Regions from separate parts of the Homo sapiens genome. Here region 1 is linked to region 2. The links come from fine-mapping of genetic effects on gene expression. Tissue or cell type: tibial artery. Region 2 holds a variant in brackets; the other region holds the start of a gene. All regions are shown on one strand. Distances are between the middles of the regions.

Region 1 (8,000 bases), 290 kb before region 2:
AGAAGAGTTTTGACTGCAATATATGAGTACTAAAAGTTGATGGTTTATGCTAATTTTAAGTGTAATATATTTTAGAATTTTGTCACATGCATTATTAATATGATTTCATATTCATGGCCTTAGGAAGATTAATTTAAACAATAACAACAAGAACAACAACAACAACAAAATACAACAAAAAATTTCCCCCATGTGCCAAGAGCAAATTTTGAGGTCCATTTATCCAGATAAAGTGTTTTGTTATCTGAACCAAGAACATGAACTTTATCTTTATAGTGACCACAGACTCCCATCTCTAGTATCATGATTTTTAATTTGAATTAAAGCATTTTTTTTTGCTTTGTTAAGATGAGGCAGGCCTTCTTGCTGACATTTTAAAAAGCAACTATTTTTCTTTCAGTTTACACTATGAGGCATTGGCTCCAACTGTCAGCATTGAAACTGTCAGCAGTTCCCTACCAGGAAACTGGTTCCAAGGTCTAGGGTTTCCTTAGGTAGAGGCTGGCACTGTGAAAATAATGGGGCTCTTTATCCATGTCACCTGGAATGGAGTTAATACCCTGCCAGTCTTAGTTGATTTGACATACTAACAGGATGGGTCTGAACGTTTTCTATAGTTTACTCATGAGTGACTTTCTTTGGCTTACGTAAATGGCAAGGCCAGACAAATTAGCTTATGGACCTAGCAATCATTCTTGGCCCAGATTTTGAGACACTTTTCAATCAACCATAGTTGCTCTAATACCTGAGATTTGCTGACAGTGCTTGGTTCAGAAAAAGGTTCAGTTTCCTGAGCAATTTTTCTTTTATTGGGATCATCTTAATTCTTGTTTGCGGGGTTAAGATGAAGGAAATATGAGCAAGGACTGCACTCAGCTATTTGGGTGACCCTTGTATACCATGAGCTTCTTAGATAGGGCCTGATGTGATCACCAGAAAACATTAATTGATCGTGATGACAGGAGATAGTCTCTCTAGCCAGAACCTGCTAATACAAGTCCTGATGAATTGAGAATGATGCCTGAAGGAAGCAGACTGACGTGGTGCATTAGTAATTTTAGGCAAAAGAAGATAATGGTACTAGTATGTATATTTTTTAGTTTCCTTTTCCATTGCTTTGTTTTGCACAGGCTGAAGAAAATAAATGTAAACAGCATATTATGGTGGCTCAGGGTGGATAATAATGGGACATCACTTCCTTTGTTTCAGTGTGAGGTTGCCCCTGCTATGTGACAGCTCCAAGGACTAAAGATTTCAATCCCCAGAAAAATGTCGAGTCCCAGTAACATGTTTCAGGTTATCATGATTATTATGATTATAGGAGGGGAAGAGCAGTGCTGGTCTTTTAGAAAGTTCTCATCATGAATGTGTTCTGGAGTGAACATCACTTACTAACAGATGAGCAGCTTGAAGTTGAGTCAAACAAAACTTTTAGTGTTTGTAAGGGTCAGGGAGCCAGGGGACAGTCTGTAACTCAGTTGTATATTGACACAGAGAATGTACAAAAGCTGTGAAAGCTTCCACTTGAATGACTGCGGATGGTTGCTGGTGACGGTCTTGGACAGTAAGGGTTTTCTTCGGAGTTGTAGGAGGTGAAGTCTTCCTATGGGAAATTTCTGGACAAAAATACAAATGAAATGACTTGCAGGCCTCAGTTTAGAGTATTGTTGGCTTTGTCTGTCAACAAATGGAGATTTGAACATGGGAGTTCAAGGGGATTTTAATGAAATTTTATTAAGGAGATGAGAAGCAGGGAGTCTGTGTTGAAAATTCAATAAAGGGCTTGTTTTCCATCTCAGCCTGGATAATCTATGTTATCTCTGAGTAAAGGGGGTAACAATTCTAACAACCTGGCTTCCTTAGAAGTTTCCATTCTCATATAGTCACCGAAGGCAGCAGCACTGTCAAATAAACAAAGGTTTAATTAAATAAAAACTATTTAAACAGAGCAGAAATATTCTTCCCTGGCTAGTCACAGATTGGACAATTCAAAGAACAAACCCTGGGGGGAAATTGCCAATGGATTACTTTTTCTGTTTTCTGTCTATTGCAACGTTTTTCTTTCTGGTGTCAAATCTCAAGTTGAATTCAGTCAATTATCTACAGCCAAAAAAAGTGCATAAATGTCTCTTCTGTTACTGTTTATATGTCACCACTAAATAAAGCAAAATTTTCTTCTCAGCTTCTTGCCTTAGGATTTTATAAGTCCAACAAAACAAATAAAATATTATGTATATTCTATCGTCACTATGAAAGCATAAGGATTGATTTAGTTATGTACAAGTTTATTGCCAAAGTTTTTCTTCGTTGCTAATGTTACACTTGCTACAAAATGTATTAAAGAAACAGACAATTTGCTAAGGATTTGGAAGGATTTGTCATTGGGTTAAGTACATTAAGTATCTAAGGGGTGTGGTGTTCTGGTTATGTGTATGTCAGTTTCACATATTTTTTTGCTTTCTTATTTTAGTTGCCTCTATAATCATTTTGACTTTAAAATGTTTTCTGCAGATCCTTTAATAACTGCAAATGTAGAAGTATGGTGTAACAAGTAATTGGTATGACTAACACTAAAATGTAATGGGAAATAAGGATACTATTGTAAAGAAAACAAGAAAAACCTGGGGTAGGGGAGCAGTATTGATTCTCTCTTAGGATTCCTAAGATTCTCTGTCCCAACCCTTCTACCATGGAACATTCTTATGTGGTCTAAGTGTCAAAGACCAGAGGAACTGGGCAGTAACTTATCTTCTCAATTTTCTCTCTGAACATAGATATTTTCTTTAAGATACGAAAAACTTTTAATTGTGCTCCTGAAACCCATCCCTGTCCTGTCTCAGCCCCGTTGACTCTTCTTTCTGTGGGTGGGTGAAAAGCCTACCCATCTGCAAAGGTAGCTCTGAAACTGTTCTGGAAAATCCTGTATTTTCCTCCACAAATGATCGTTTTAGTTTCAAGTTTATTTCAGGTACATTAATTCTCCCCCTCCTCAGACTTCATAACAAATGATCCTGCACACGATTAGAATAGGAAAATGTAAAATAAAATCGAAGCATATCTAGTTGCCTCAGCGACTTTATGCTTATCACTTTCAGTCTGCATTATTCTACTAAAAATAAAAAGAAAGATGAAAATTACCTCAGGCGTTTGCTGCCGTGCCTGCCCTTTGGTTTCTGGGACGGCTCGGGTCCCGTAGCGCCGGCACAGCTGAGATTGCCAAGCCGGGAAGAGACCTTGCTCCAGGTGTAGCTGCGTTTTCCCCAGATCACCTGTCCTTTTCCCCTCCGACAAGGAAGCTGTGATTTTTCTCTGGCCTTTAGAGGCAAAGTGATTCCAGATAAGTAGATTAATGTGTAGAATATCTCATCTGTGTTGTTCCAGTGCAGCCCTTTCAGCTTTCCAGAGCCAGTTAGACTTGTTATGAGGAGCTAAGTGATTGGCTGGCTCTGGAGCTCAGTTTCATAGATTATAGCCCAGCGTACGAGAAGCACGAGTCCTATAGTTGGCGTACCCTGAGGCCTGCCAGTTCCTGCCTTAATGCATATGTAGTCGTAATTGAGTTCTGACACGGCCTTGGATGTTTCTGTCCTAAATAGCTGACATTGCATCTTCAAGACTGTGTGAGTAATCCTGATATTTTTTTTTTAAGCTCAGTAAATTAATTACATGCCCTGGGAGGGAGTGATTGTAAGTAGAAAATACTGAACTAGCAGATGATTCGTTTTTAAGGTGCTATACTATGTGTATCAAGTTCAAGACGATGAATCTTAAAGCTTCTAAGAACTGGCAGGGTTATTCCAGCTTTGTGCCATGAATCACAGTCAAGCTGCATTTTGAAGGAGGCTGTTTGATGCATTTGCTAGCTCTGTTTGTTTTATGGGGTCAGTAAAGTGGCAGAGGTCCAACAGGAGCAGGTTAAAGCAGGATGCTGGGATCAAAGCTTAGAGAGCACTTGAGTCAGGCAAGTTTTAAGTTTTCCCACCCCCAAGCATCTCAGTCCAAAACTGAGAGCAAGCAGCAAATATTATAATAAATGCTTTGGGGACAGGGGTACACAGCAGATAGGGCACAGTAACAGGAGAAATGTAAAATGATGGCAGCAATACTTTTGTTCACTGTAATCTGCAGCCAATTGAAGACATACACTATGAATAACTAAAACATTTTTATATGAACAAAAATGCTCTTCAGTGGTTCTGTTTATGTGGTAGAGGGCTGAATGAAAAACCATGCGCTTGTTGTAAAAAAGCCTTATAAAAAGTACATTAAACACATACAGACACAACCATAACAGAAGAAAGTATGTGGATTGGAATTTGTGATTGGAGCAGATCAAATTAAGCCAGGGAAGCCGTTATTAGGTTTGTATGATTGCTGGGGGGTAACTTCTGTTGCTGACAAGGTTTAGGATAAAGCTGGAGCAGATTGAAGTGGAAAACCAGAAAACATCAGCATTTCATTACCTTCTATAGCATACACTGCAGGGTAGAATTAATACTGAGTATAGACTGGTAAATGTGAGCAGTTTACTGTTTGCTTTTAAATCATTATTGATTTCCCCTAGCCTATCATAAAAAATAATAGGGCTTTTGCCTATGAAATTAGTGCTTAGAAATATTTTTCTTCCTCCCAAATAATTTTTATACTTTTTCTCAATACAGCACAAAGGTAGGTCATTAAAAATAAAGGGGTTCCTTTTCAAGTTGCTTTTTGTCTAATTTTTCCTCTTTAGACCTGTAGATACAAATGTATGTATTTGTGCTATGTATAACTCTCAAGCATAAATCATTTGAACAGTATTTAAAATCACAGGCTCCTGTGGCAAATATAAACTTTTAATAGCTATAGTTGGCAATTACTTGCCAATTCCTATAAAAATAACATTAGTGGCTTATTTTTGATTGCACCTAAACAACTGGCATGATTTAGCCAGTAGGAGAGAAATATTAGTTGTGTTTTGCATAATTTTGTGTTTAGATCACACTGGAAATACAAAGTTTTGTTGTTAAAAATATTTTTGCTTTCTGAAATATTATCCCCTTTCAGATCACACCAATGAATGAAGTTTGTAGAAAGAAAGAAAAGTAGCCAACGTAGACTCCTTTTCTGTATCAATCAAATATATGCAAAATACATAGATTTTTAAAAATGTAATTTTAATACATTCCTTTAGAAACACATTTACTTCATGAAGAAACAGTATAATGAGTTCATTTATTGACCCAGAATAGTGAGTTGATTTATTGAGTTTCTGTAGCCATAGACACGAATAGTAATGGTTGGCTCATTCTTAGCTATACATTCCTAACTGACTGTATTAGTGGGAGAAAGGAGTGCATCTATAAAATAAATATAATCCCATCCCTCAAGGTGGTCTGGAGCCCATCTAAGAGTAAGAAGTAGTAGAGTTGAAGCTGCTTTATCTGAATCAGCTCCTGACTTCAACTCAGCTCCTCTTTTTCCTTAGGTCCATGTGGCCCACTTGGTGTAGTATTCACATCTCCTTCCACCTTTTTATGCCTTCATTGTTTACATTACCTTGCTTGGGCTCTTATTGAGATGAATCACATAAAAATGCTTAATTATCAAACATTAATCAGCTGCCTATATAATTCAGAGGATGTTTAAAACCAAGGCTCAAGGAAATTCTGGTGGGTGTATACTAGGAGTATTTACGTCTTGCATCGGTACTTTCCTCTGGGACTTCCATCACTTCAGTTCTTCCTGAGATGCCAGAGTCATATCTCTTACTTGTGAAAGAACAGAGCTTTAAGAAATGGAGTCTAGAGGTGCCAGGTGCCCAGTGGACAGTGGGCTGGGGGCAAGGCATGGTGGGGAAAGCAAAAAAAATCTCCCAAACAGCAATAGTTGATCTTTCTTCTATCCACTCCTCTCAATTTTCTAAAACCATTTTTGTCTAACTGTGGAAGTTCTTTTGCAGATAAGGTTCTGTAAAACTATGCATATCTGCCATAGACAGATGGATTTGACGAAAGATGTATCCAAAAAGGAATGTATCACATCATGAACTTGCTAAGTGTTCATGAATACACACTGGCATTTGGAGACTATTAACACTACCTACTGAAGCAAAGACATAAATCCAAATTGAAGAAAATATAATTTTTTGATTGAATTACATTTTCCAGTGGGTTTTTTTTTTTTTGGTGAATTTTGTTTTTGGAAAAATTTGCTCTTCCCTCCAACGTTTTTCCTGTGTTATATATAGGACTGATTTGATTTCTTCAGCTTGCCCAAGAATTTAATAATTCTTACTTTGTGTTTTCAAAAGAGTTGCTGTCTACCTTGAGCATGTTTTTAAAAAAGCAGAACAAAACGAATGAAACAAATGTCCCTCTTCCCACAGAAAAAGCACACCACCAAGGAGTTAAATGCCCTACATTTCTTTAAGTCCCTCCTTTTGTGGAGCTAGACACTGGTAGAAGAGGAGCTTTCATTTAATTTCAAGACAATCAGTGATTCCAACTTAACTATAACTGTGTTCCTCTAATATCTGATTTCAAGAAGCAGAACATTTTGGTGAATTAATCTTAGAGTCAACGGGACCACGCTCAGGCCATGAAACGTTTTCTAAGCCTCAGTCTCTATGTCTTTAAAATGAAAATAATGATATATGTTCTGGTATTTTACTAGATTGGTGAATATCCACATCACAATGAGAAAGTGCTTGTCAAAAGAACATTGTAATGTGTAATTTGTAATGTGCTGTACATGTACACTATTATTATGACTGTAGCTCATCACGCTAGGGTTAGGACTCTTTACTTCTAAAACATATTCCCAGTAATGGACAAAACTTTTGAAGCAAAGAAAATCTTCACTGTTTGATCCTAATGTTATGAAGGCTTTTGGACCTTACATTTGTTTAAGCTCCCATTGAAGCTCCCATTGGAGCTTCAATGCTGATCCATCTATTACTTGAGTATTAAAAATACCGATAGGTTTACTGTGATAAACGAATGTGGCATTGTATGTGAAAACATATTTAGTAAACTTCCATGTGCCATAGTCGTATAAATATTACATATTGCAACAATTATCAGTATATTAATAAAAATTCTTTGCAAATTTTCAATTTTTAAAATGGAAAGTATCAGATATATTTCTTATTGATTGGATTGACTAACTTTCTAAGCTATGTTTGCTTCCCTCAAACAGGATGAATGTTCCTGTTGGTTAAGCTTTCTTTCCACTTAGATACAGCACTAAGCCAATAGTTAGATAAGCATTCCTTCACAGCCTACATTTGGAGCTGCCAATGACGAAGTTTTAGAGGACATATTTTCCTCACAGGAAAAAGTGGGTTAGGAAATTTAGACTGACAGATGTTCTTGGGTTTTTTTTTTTTTTTTAATTCCTGTCTTGACTCTCATTATTAAATTTTGCTAAGGAAATAATTATGTAGGTTTTGAGGTGATGCTTATTCCTAGTAGTCTTTTCATCTCAGGGATGCAATGAATGGTCAAAATGACCTTCTGAATGATTTGAAAGATCAATTAGCAGTTTTGAATCCCAAATTTTTAGGTGGTTCTGCTTCAGAAAATCATTATGCTTTTTGGAATAATGTCCATAGCTGCATCCTACATTTCAGTGGTTTCAGCTCACTGCTGTTATAGTTTGATGATTTCCTAACAGCAATATTGGTTATGCTAAAGCAGTTCCCCATTTCACCTGTTGAACCCTTTTTAAAAGATAGAAGAAATTATAGAGGAATCACAATAAGTAAAACGTATTAAAATGGAGTGGATTATCTCCACTTTTATCTCACACAGCTCACCCAGAAATTCATGAGAGAACTTTCTAGGAATGAAACAATTTCATTTGTAGTAGTATTTGAAAACTGGATCTAGGGCCATTGACCTGACTTTTTTGTGCCTTTGGTGATTGGATAAGAACACTTCTTCAGTAATTTAAAACTATAGTGAAATAATGTTTTTTTTTAACTTCTCAATAGGAATTTATTTATTCAGCAAAAATCA
Region 2 (8,268 bases):
CTGTCAAATATCAAATTCTTATGTATAGTTGTATCTCTTTGGTGTTTCTGTTCAGTTCTATTGGATTCTCTTCTAGTCTGGTGCCAGTATCAATTATTATAATTATTACAGAAATTACTCCTTTGTTAATATTGTCTTTCAGAAATGTTCTGGATATATTTACATTTATTTATATGAGGTCTTAAAATACACAAGCAATGGGAGACAAGGGGGAATTGCAATTGGGGGTAAATAAAGCAAGTTTGGAAAAATGTTGATATTGTTGTAGCTGTGTGATGGGAATGTGGGACTCATGATCCTATTTACTCTGCTTGCATGTATGTGTGAAAGTGACGATAACAAAACTTTATATAAATAATTAGGTAAATAATTCAGATCGGAACTGCATGTAATTGGAATTGCACATGCTTTCCTCTTTAGAAACATGTTTTTTAAAAAAAGTCTCCTTTTATGTACTTCAATGAAGTTTTGTAGTTCATTTCTTTATATAGTCCCTCTACCTTTCTAAACAAACAAGCATACAAAACCTAAGAAAGCTTCTTCATGCCTAGTTTTTAAGTTGTGTGTGTGTGTGTAGCAATTATATTTCAAATTGTTGGTATATAGGAAAACCTTGATTTGTAATCAACCCAGTTACTTAACTTAAAAAAAAAAACTCTATTTCTTTCTTTTTTTTTTTTTTTGCTTTCTTTTTGGGAGGTTTTTCAAGTAGAGAATCCTGTGGTCTTCCTATAGTGATAGACTTGCCTCATCATTTTCAATATTTATGATTCTCCTTTATGGGATTTATTAGCTAGCACTTTAAACACATTGGCAACTGAGGGTGGTGGTAGTGGGTATTTTTCTGCTGCTCCCGGCTTTAATGAGAATGTCTTCCATCTTTGATCACTAAGCAAGACATTGGCTATTTGAGAAAGATATGACTTTTGGTCCCGTTTTATTAAATCTTAAAAATCAGGATTCAGTGTTAAGTGTTTTCACATGCATTTTAGACATTCTTAGAAAGGATTATGTGTTTTTCTTTTCCCTTGGTCTATTACTTTAATGAGTTATATTAATAGGTTTCTTACTATTAAACTCTTCTCACATTCCAGAGTGTGTAAACTCATGAATAATATGGATCTTGTGTACTGTCTTACAGAAATTCCCTAAATTGATGGCATTTCTCCATGAGTTTTCTATTGTTTCTTGCTTCTAAGTGAATTTGGGAGCAAGGAGAGTGAAATAAATGGACTGAAATTTCTATCTTATACTGGAAGTCTGGCATACTTGCATTGACTGTCATCTACAGTAGAGTCAAATGTACTGACTGAAATTCAGCTATGGTTAAAGAATGTGGCTTTTATTTCTTATAGCAAATTTTCTAGCTCTAGATTCTAGCTGTAGAGCCATTGTTCCCATTAATGAGGTGGGGAAAAACACCCAAACTTTAATTCATTTCGGGATTAGAATAGTTTCTTTTGGGTCAGTATGTAAATAATTGAAAGTTGAGCTATATATCAGAACTGTTTTTCTCCTCTTCAATGACTTCTGATGTCTTCCCTAAAACATAAAATAACTTCTGGGTGCAGGAGAAAACATACATATCCTGGATTTATACTTACTAGCCATGTAATCTTGTGATGATTATTTCAGCTTTCTCTACCTTGATTTCTTCATCTGCAAATTGGATATTAAAATGACAACTATTTTACAGAATTTTGTGGGAATTGAATTAGTTAATATATTTTAAGTGATTAGAACATTTCCTGGTACATAGCAAATGCCCCATAAGCGTTTGTAATTATAATATAAAATTATGATTGTTCTCATAGTGTTAGGAGTGAAGTGGACTTTGGTTCATGTGCCATTTTCCAATTGAGTGCTCTTGGGATGATTTGGTGTCTGTCTCTCCTGCCTCCACTTTGAAGTATCTGAAGCTGGTTTAATACTCTAATTCTGTTCTCTTGCCATAAGCAAAGAATAGGAATTACATCTGTTTTTGCCAACTAGGTTGGCACCCAACTCTTGCTGGGAATATGGGGTCTCTTTCCTTAGTAATATTTATGAATGAGATAATCTGTAACAATATCTTGGTATGGTATGATATGTTGTGACATCATCTTCATCTTAGCAGAGTTTGGATGAGTTAGAAACTGAAAGACCATTTTAATACTAAGTTTCTTTCATTCAGCTACTTCTACTTCAGATATTAAATTTGGTTTTACTTTTTCATTTATATGCTTTCGCTTATATTACTTCTTTAGTGAATTAAAGAGATTTTTAAAGAGAAAATTCTAGCTTCTCAAGCATCATTGTCCTTCTGAAAAATTGAACTAATAAGCCCTGAGATGATTAAAGCGTAGCCGATCCTTAGAAAAGAAATTGCCATTTTCCATTTTCACTAAGAAATTCATCTATTAGCACAATAATATTTATGAGATTTTGCTGTTGTGCAATCCCTCATTCATCCCTTATCACCATTTTGAATGAAGAGAGAGCAAAATCTAATTCCAGGTGCCAGATGGGTGCCACACAAATGGCAATGATTCAGCACAGGCTCCAGTTACAGATACCAAGCTCTGAACAGCTATTTGGATAATCAGGAGATCTTGGTGAACTGAGGTGAATTTTCTTCTGTGTGTCAGGTCCTCCACTTGTTCTTTCTCTATATTCAGAGCCTTTGAATTTGCTATGAAGCTTGGTATCTGCTTTGTCCTAGCAGTTAAGAGTTGGTGTCACAATTCACATCTTGCTGGAAAAGTGATGGGTTCATTTTGAGGCTCATTGAATGAGTCCTTGAAGAAGGAAGCATCAAAATGAAAAGGATTTCAAATCTCTGAGTATAAGGTTTGAAATGTTCATTTGACCTCACTGATGGCTGTGGAAAAGCCTAGGCTTGGACACAGAAACTGAAGGTTAAATCTTGTACTATAATTGAGTGTCTCTAGAATTAGTACAGGCTTCTCTCATTTTGTGGCAGTGTAACAGCAGACTAACAATCCTGGGAAGAGTGCATTTTTAATGAAACATTTTTGCAGGGTTAGTAAAATCCAGATCTCCTAAAAAACCCAATGCTTGCTTACTCTAAGATGAGAAGGATAAGCCAAATTCAAGGCTTCTCACTATGCCACCAGGTTATACAATAAATTTTGAGCTCCCCTATCCTACATTTCGAAGGATTAATTCTAACTGTAATTTACCTTGATTCTTAGAGCTCGCTGAGGCTCTTGGTGTTAAAGACATATCAGGGGACAAAGTAATAAAAAGCTTACATTTAAGGAGTGCCTTCTTAGAGTTAGGTACAGTGGTTATATACGCTGACATGTAAGTTCATCATTTAGTTTACACAGTAGTAGCCTTGAAATGTGAGTTTCAGTATCTACATTTATCTTGATCCTGACATTGACATGCAAAAGGGTTAAGTAGTTTCTCATGGCCATAAAATTAGAAAATGGCCAAAACAGAATTTGACTCCAAATTCTTTGGAATATGGAATATGACTGATTCCAAAACCTAATATTCCACTGATTAGTTTTGTCTCTTCATCTCTCCGAATCAACATCTCTTACATAAATTACTTTTGTTTAGGGGATATCTTAGAGTTCTTGTTTTATAATGGAGTGAGAAAAAAATATCTCCTTAAGAACAAAGGAATTAAAACAAGGCACTACATTGAAGGAGTTTAT[T/C]TTATCTACCACATATACACTGAATATGAAAGAAAAAGAGTATATTGAAAATGATTCTCTAATGGCAGAAAAATATTATAATTTATGCTGTACTAGATCTTGATTTTGTTGCTTGTTATTTTTAATGTCTATAATAAATTGGTAAAACAGTAAAACTCTTGAAAAGCAAAAAAAAAAAAAATCCAAATTCTTTGCCCACTTTTTTTTCTGCTGTTATTTTATTTTTAATGTAAAAAAGCCAACTGCTCTTTATCATTCGTTAGAAATTTGCTCCAAACTAAGGGGCATGTACAGTTTTCAATTTGTGGGTGTTAATGACTCCACCACAGTGGGCTCATTCCCTTGCAAGGGCGCTAACGGGCTGTTGCTTCCTAAGAGACAGAGGATTGAGAGGTTTTGGTTTCTACTCATAGTCTTTGGTTTCTTGGCTCTGTTATTTTCCTTGTTTATGTTTCTTTTAATTAACATTGAGTTTCTTCATTTTATGCCTTGCTTTTCTTCTGTTTGTACAGTCTGCCGGCAATGACTCCTTGGGTAGCACTTGTTAATTAGGGAGAAATGATAGCTTGAGGGTACTTCCTGACTTACTTGGTGCTAGGATAAAAGTTGTTCTACTGAAGCCGCATTAGAACAACTTTTATGTACCTACCTCAAGTAAGATCTGCATGATGCTCTACCAATTCCCTTTTGTCTCTTTGATCTTTACTTTAACTCTGGTTTATTTTATTTAAATTCTCATTGTGTCCCAAATAATCTAAACCAAGAGTATTATTAGGTCTTAAAATAATTCACTTGTATTTTTCTTAAGGAGGCTATTCACAGTAGATTTTGTGGGAAAATAAAAATTAGAATTCACGGCTGATTGACTAAATAAAAGCAACTAAAGAACCAAAGGGTATGTTGATTTTAAAAAGGAACTTCTGAAGGTATCTGGCTCATAATTACCCAGAGATAATAATTTTGGTTCTATAGCTCAGATTGAGAAAGCTATACATAATATAATGCAGGATCTATAACATGGATTGTCTTTCTCAATTTCTCACTATTCCTCACTCTCACCTTTCCTTCTCTCTTTCAGCTACCTATTCCTATCTAATCTATCTATCTATCTATCTATCTATCTATCTATCTATCTATCTATCTAACTGTCTATCTATCTATCTATCTATCTATCTATCTATCTATCTATCTATCTATCTATCTGCCTATCTTGTTTTTGCCAGAGAGGCAGAATGGTTCATGTTTTAGAACCTAGTTGGTCTCATGATACAAAGTACAGACTATGATTTGTAATTAATGATTTGTAGACAGCAGTCTCTACATACATTCTACAACCCTCAGTGAAATGCCATTTCTAATACTTCTCAAATTTACAAGTATTCAGACAGCAGATTTTACTTTAATATGGGACAAAAAAACATTAAAAAGAATAAAAGGCTCAGTGCCTTGATGAACTCCACTTTTCTTTGTAGCTAGTAAGCAGCTTGCACCAGAGATTTTATGGGGATCATCTTGCTATCATTTTATTTTCCTCATGATGACTCAGGGAATTTTATCCTGAGGCTCTCAATGGATCTGTTATAGTCAAGCTGATGATGACACATCTCAGAGGCTCATTCCATATTGGGCCTCAGGCCAGCAAACTACGCACCATGCTGTCCTATGATTCACAGGACGAAACTGCTCTAGACACCTCCCACTGCCCAGGCAGGAAGGGCACCATAATGAGGCAGTGGGAGGGTGTATGGCTAGGAAAGTTGCTAAAAGGAAGCTTTTGTTGTAACTTTCTTCTCTGCTGCAGGAGGCTAACACCAAAGCAAAGTATTATCAAGCAACAGACCCTACATTTATGCAATATTAATGAGAAGGTCCCTGGACTTTTAATTAGGGTGGAGAGTTGTGTTTTAGAGAGCTGAAATTATTTTAGGTGGGAGGAAATGGAATCCTGGGAGAAAAGTAATTAATTTATAGCTCAATGACTGAACTGTGCCATTTTGAAATACTGGTCAAGGTGAGCGTTGAAAGAGTGGGTACTCTGGCATTTCCATACCCTTGGGAGTGAAGAATTAGGCTATTTGGGGAGCCAAATGATATGCTTGTATTTCCAAAAATGTCATTTATTTTGTAATAAATTTGTGCTGAAATAAAAAGTGGCTTGTGTTCTCTATGTAAGTGTGACCGCCTGCATATTATTCATTCAATGGTCATTTACAGCATACTTTATAGGTGTGGAATTCTACAGATGCCTTTTCTACAGGGACAAAGTTCTGACTAGATGCACAAAGGAGATGAAAAGAACCGTCAATGTCTACTTTCATGTTCCTTTCCCTCTACGTGGGGAAAAACATCAGTATATGAAATGGCATTTGAATAACTTAAAGAGAAGTGTTCACAAGAGCAGAATAACTCGGAACAGGCTTTGAAGCCATTAGGTGTATGAATCATTTACTGCCTCCTCGGGGGTCCCACACCAGCTATTCTGAGATTCTGTCAGAGCACTTAGTGTATTGTGTTATTTGTCTCTGTCCCCCACTAGAATGAGAGTTCCACGTGGAGAGAGATTTTTATCGTATTTATCTCTGCATCCCTGGACCCTAGAGCACAGTTCATTGCATACCACAAGTGTCCAGTAAATGTCTGGTGAATGAATTAGTAAAATAGATTGCTGTTATCATTTTGGAGGAAGAGAAGGGAATAGAATGATGGTTTTATATGGACATAAACTACAAAGGAAATGATTTGATTCTTTTCAGTCTGGAGACAAAATGTGCTTTTCTTCTCTTAATTCTCTGTTCAATTCAGCAGAAATCAGTAAACATTTACTAAGCATATTTTATGTTGTAATTGTATATATAAACATGAAATGTTTTCTAACCTCAAGGGACTTAGAGTCCAGGGCAAGGTTGGCAGTGACGTACAATTAAACAGATCATTTTGATGTAATTTGACAAATATACTGTGGGAGGCATTCAGGAGGCATTATGGAGGGAGTAAAAAGGGATGTTAGGTCAGGCTGGCAGTGGGAATGGGGCTGGGATATTGGGAGAATCAGGAAACTCTTCCAGGAGGAGATGACACCTGAGTTGAGTCTTGAAGCAAGACATTCCCAAACAAAGGAAGAAGAGCATGGCTATGGGGTAAAGGAAGAGGGGAAAAAGTCCAAGACAGAGGACAGGGAGGTGAGAAACCGTATGGCGTATGCAAAGAATTACAAGTGGTTCCCTATAGCAAGTGAGTGAAACAATGCTGTGTGGGAGGTCAAGGGATGATACTGCAAACAGCAGACAGGGGGACTCCTACTTACCATGTAAAGGAGATTTATTTGGACTTTATGCTGTAGGGGATAGGCAGCTATTGATAGATTTTAAGGTGGACTTGAAGTAGGCAGTATTGGTGACAAGAAGAACATTAGAAAGTGCCTGAATTTGTGTAGATAAAACTCTGGAAGACTGTGGTAGTGGTAGACCCCTCTTAGTGTATGAGATATGTATGTGGCGGGTTAAAGTATACACATGGCAGCTAAAACAATGAAAACTAGTGGATTATCAAGAAATATAATCTAGAACAGAGGCTCCCAAGTGCCAATCAAAAGTGGTGGTGCTCTTCACCCTTCATGATTATTATCTGGGGTATTGGTCAAAAGTAGATTCCTGAGTACCTGTCCTCAAAGTTCTGATTCATTGGTGGAGAGTCAGCCATCTGCATTTTATGGCATTCCCTAGCTAATTTTGATATGCAGTCATGTTTGGGAAATGCTGATAAAAATAATATCAATGGTATCACTCATATTTTAGATGTAGACAAAATAAGAAGACCCCGTGAAGTAGCAAGAAGTTGAGCAGTCAGTTGGAGAACCAGCAGAAGACAGAGGAAGAGGGATTTTCTAGAAGGCAAAACAATGTGATAGCAGAGAGTTCTAGTCAGATAATTTGTGAAAAGTTTGTTAGATTTTGTGATATGGAGGTCTAGGATCTTTAGAGAAAGTAGTTTAAGTGTGGAAGGAGTAAAACTTGCTTGCATTGGGTTGAGGGGTAGACAGTGGGAATAAGGAGGTAAAGAAAGATAACAGACATTTTTTTTCAAATAGCTTGATTTTGAAGAGAAAGAGAATGATATCTTGAGGAGGGAGAACATAGGGTTATAAGGATAATTTACTTTTTACAAGAGGAGAGACTCAAGAGAGTATTTAGATCTTGAGGGGAGAGAACCAGTTAGAACTAGAGCAGATGGAGGAGGAAAGACAGGCATAGGTAGAAGACAGGACTCCTCATAGGAGGAGAAACACCTCACTCATCCTCTCAGACAGCGGGAAAGGAGGTAAGGGAGAGTAAGCTGGGTGAGGAAGGAAGCTGAGGCATAATTTTTGATGGGATGTTCAGAGAGACATTAAGAGGCTCAAATAGTTGAAAGGGTACAAAGCTGGTTGAAACTAAACCTAGGTAAAGAGCCCTATTGTTAACTTACTATTTTAAAAATATTTTTCTTGAAAATTGTGACAGCTTTTTCTTTTCTTTTTTTCTTTTTCTTTCTTTTTTTTTTTTTTTTTTTTTTTGAGACGGAGTCTCGCTGTCGCCCAGGCTGGAGTGCAGTGGCGCAATCT

Which allele goes with the higher level. Positions count from the first base shown, and alleles are read on the strand shown. Sizes are in standard deviations (SD) of each study's normalised expression.
For the expression in tibial artery of the gene that starts at base 3,849 in region 1, T is the low allele of the variant in region 2 and C is the other (large effect, 1.5 SD a copy in GTEx).

Evidence for each region. PIP is the estimated chance that this variant, and not a neighbour inherited with it, causes the effect.
Region 1: it holds the start of PART1, and the variant in region 2 is fine-mapped to the expression of PART1 in tibial artery (GTEx, PIP above 0.99). The same link has a PIP of 0.9 or more in sun-exposed skin.

The regions. Positions count from the first base shown.
Region 1 is chr5:60,483,562-60,491,561 of GRCh38, reverse strand. It overlaps PART1 (prostate androgen-regulated transcript 1), which reads right to left and starts at 3,849. Exons shown (of 4, transcript NR_024617.1): 1 at 3,139-3,849. It also overlaps a transcript of PDE4D not described here.
Region 2 is chr5:60,193,622-60,201,889 of GRCh38, reverse strand. It overlaps a transcript of PDE4D not described here. Among named protein-coding and RNA genes, the nearest start is that of PART1, 290 kb to the left of the region's middle. The variant T/C (reference allele first, on the strand shown) is at 3,669.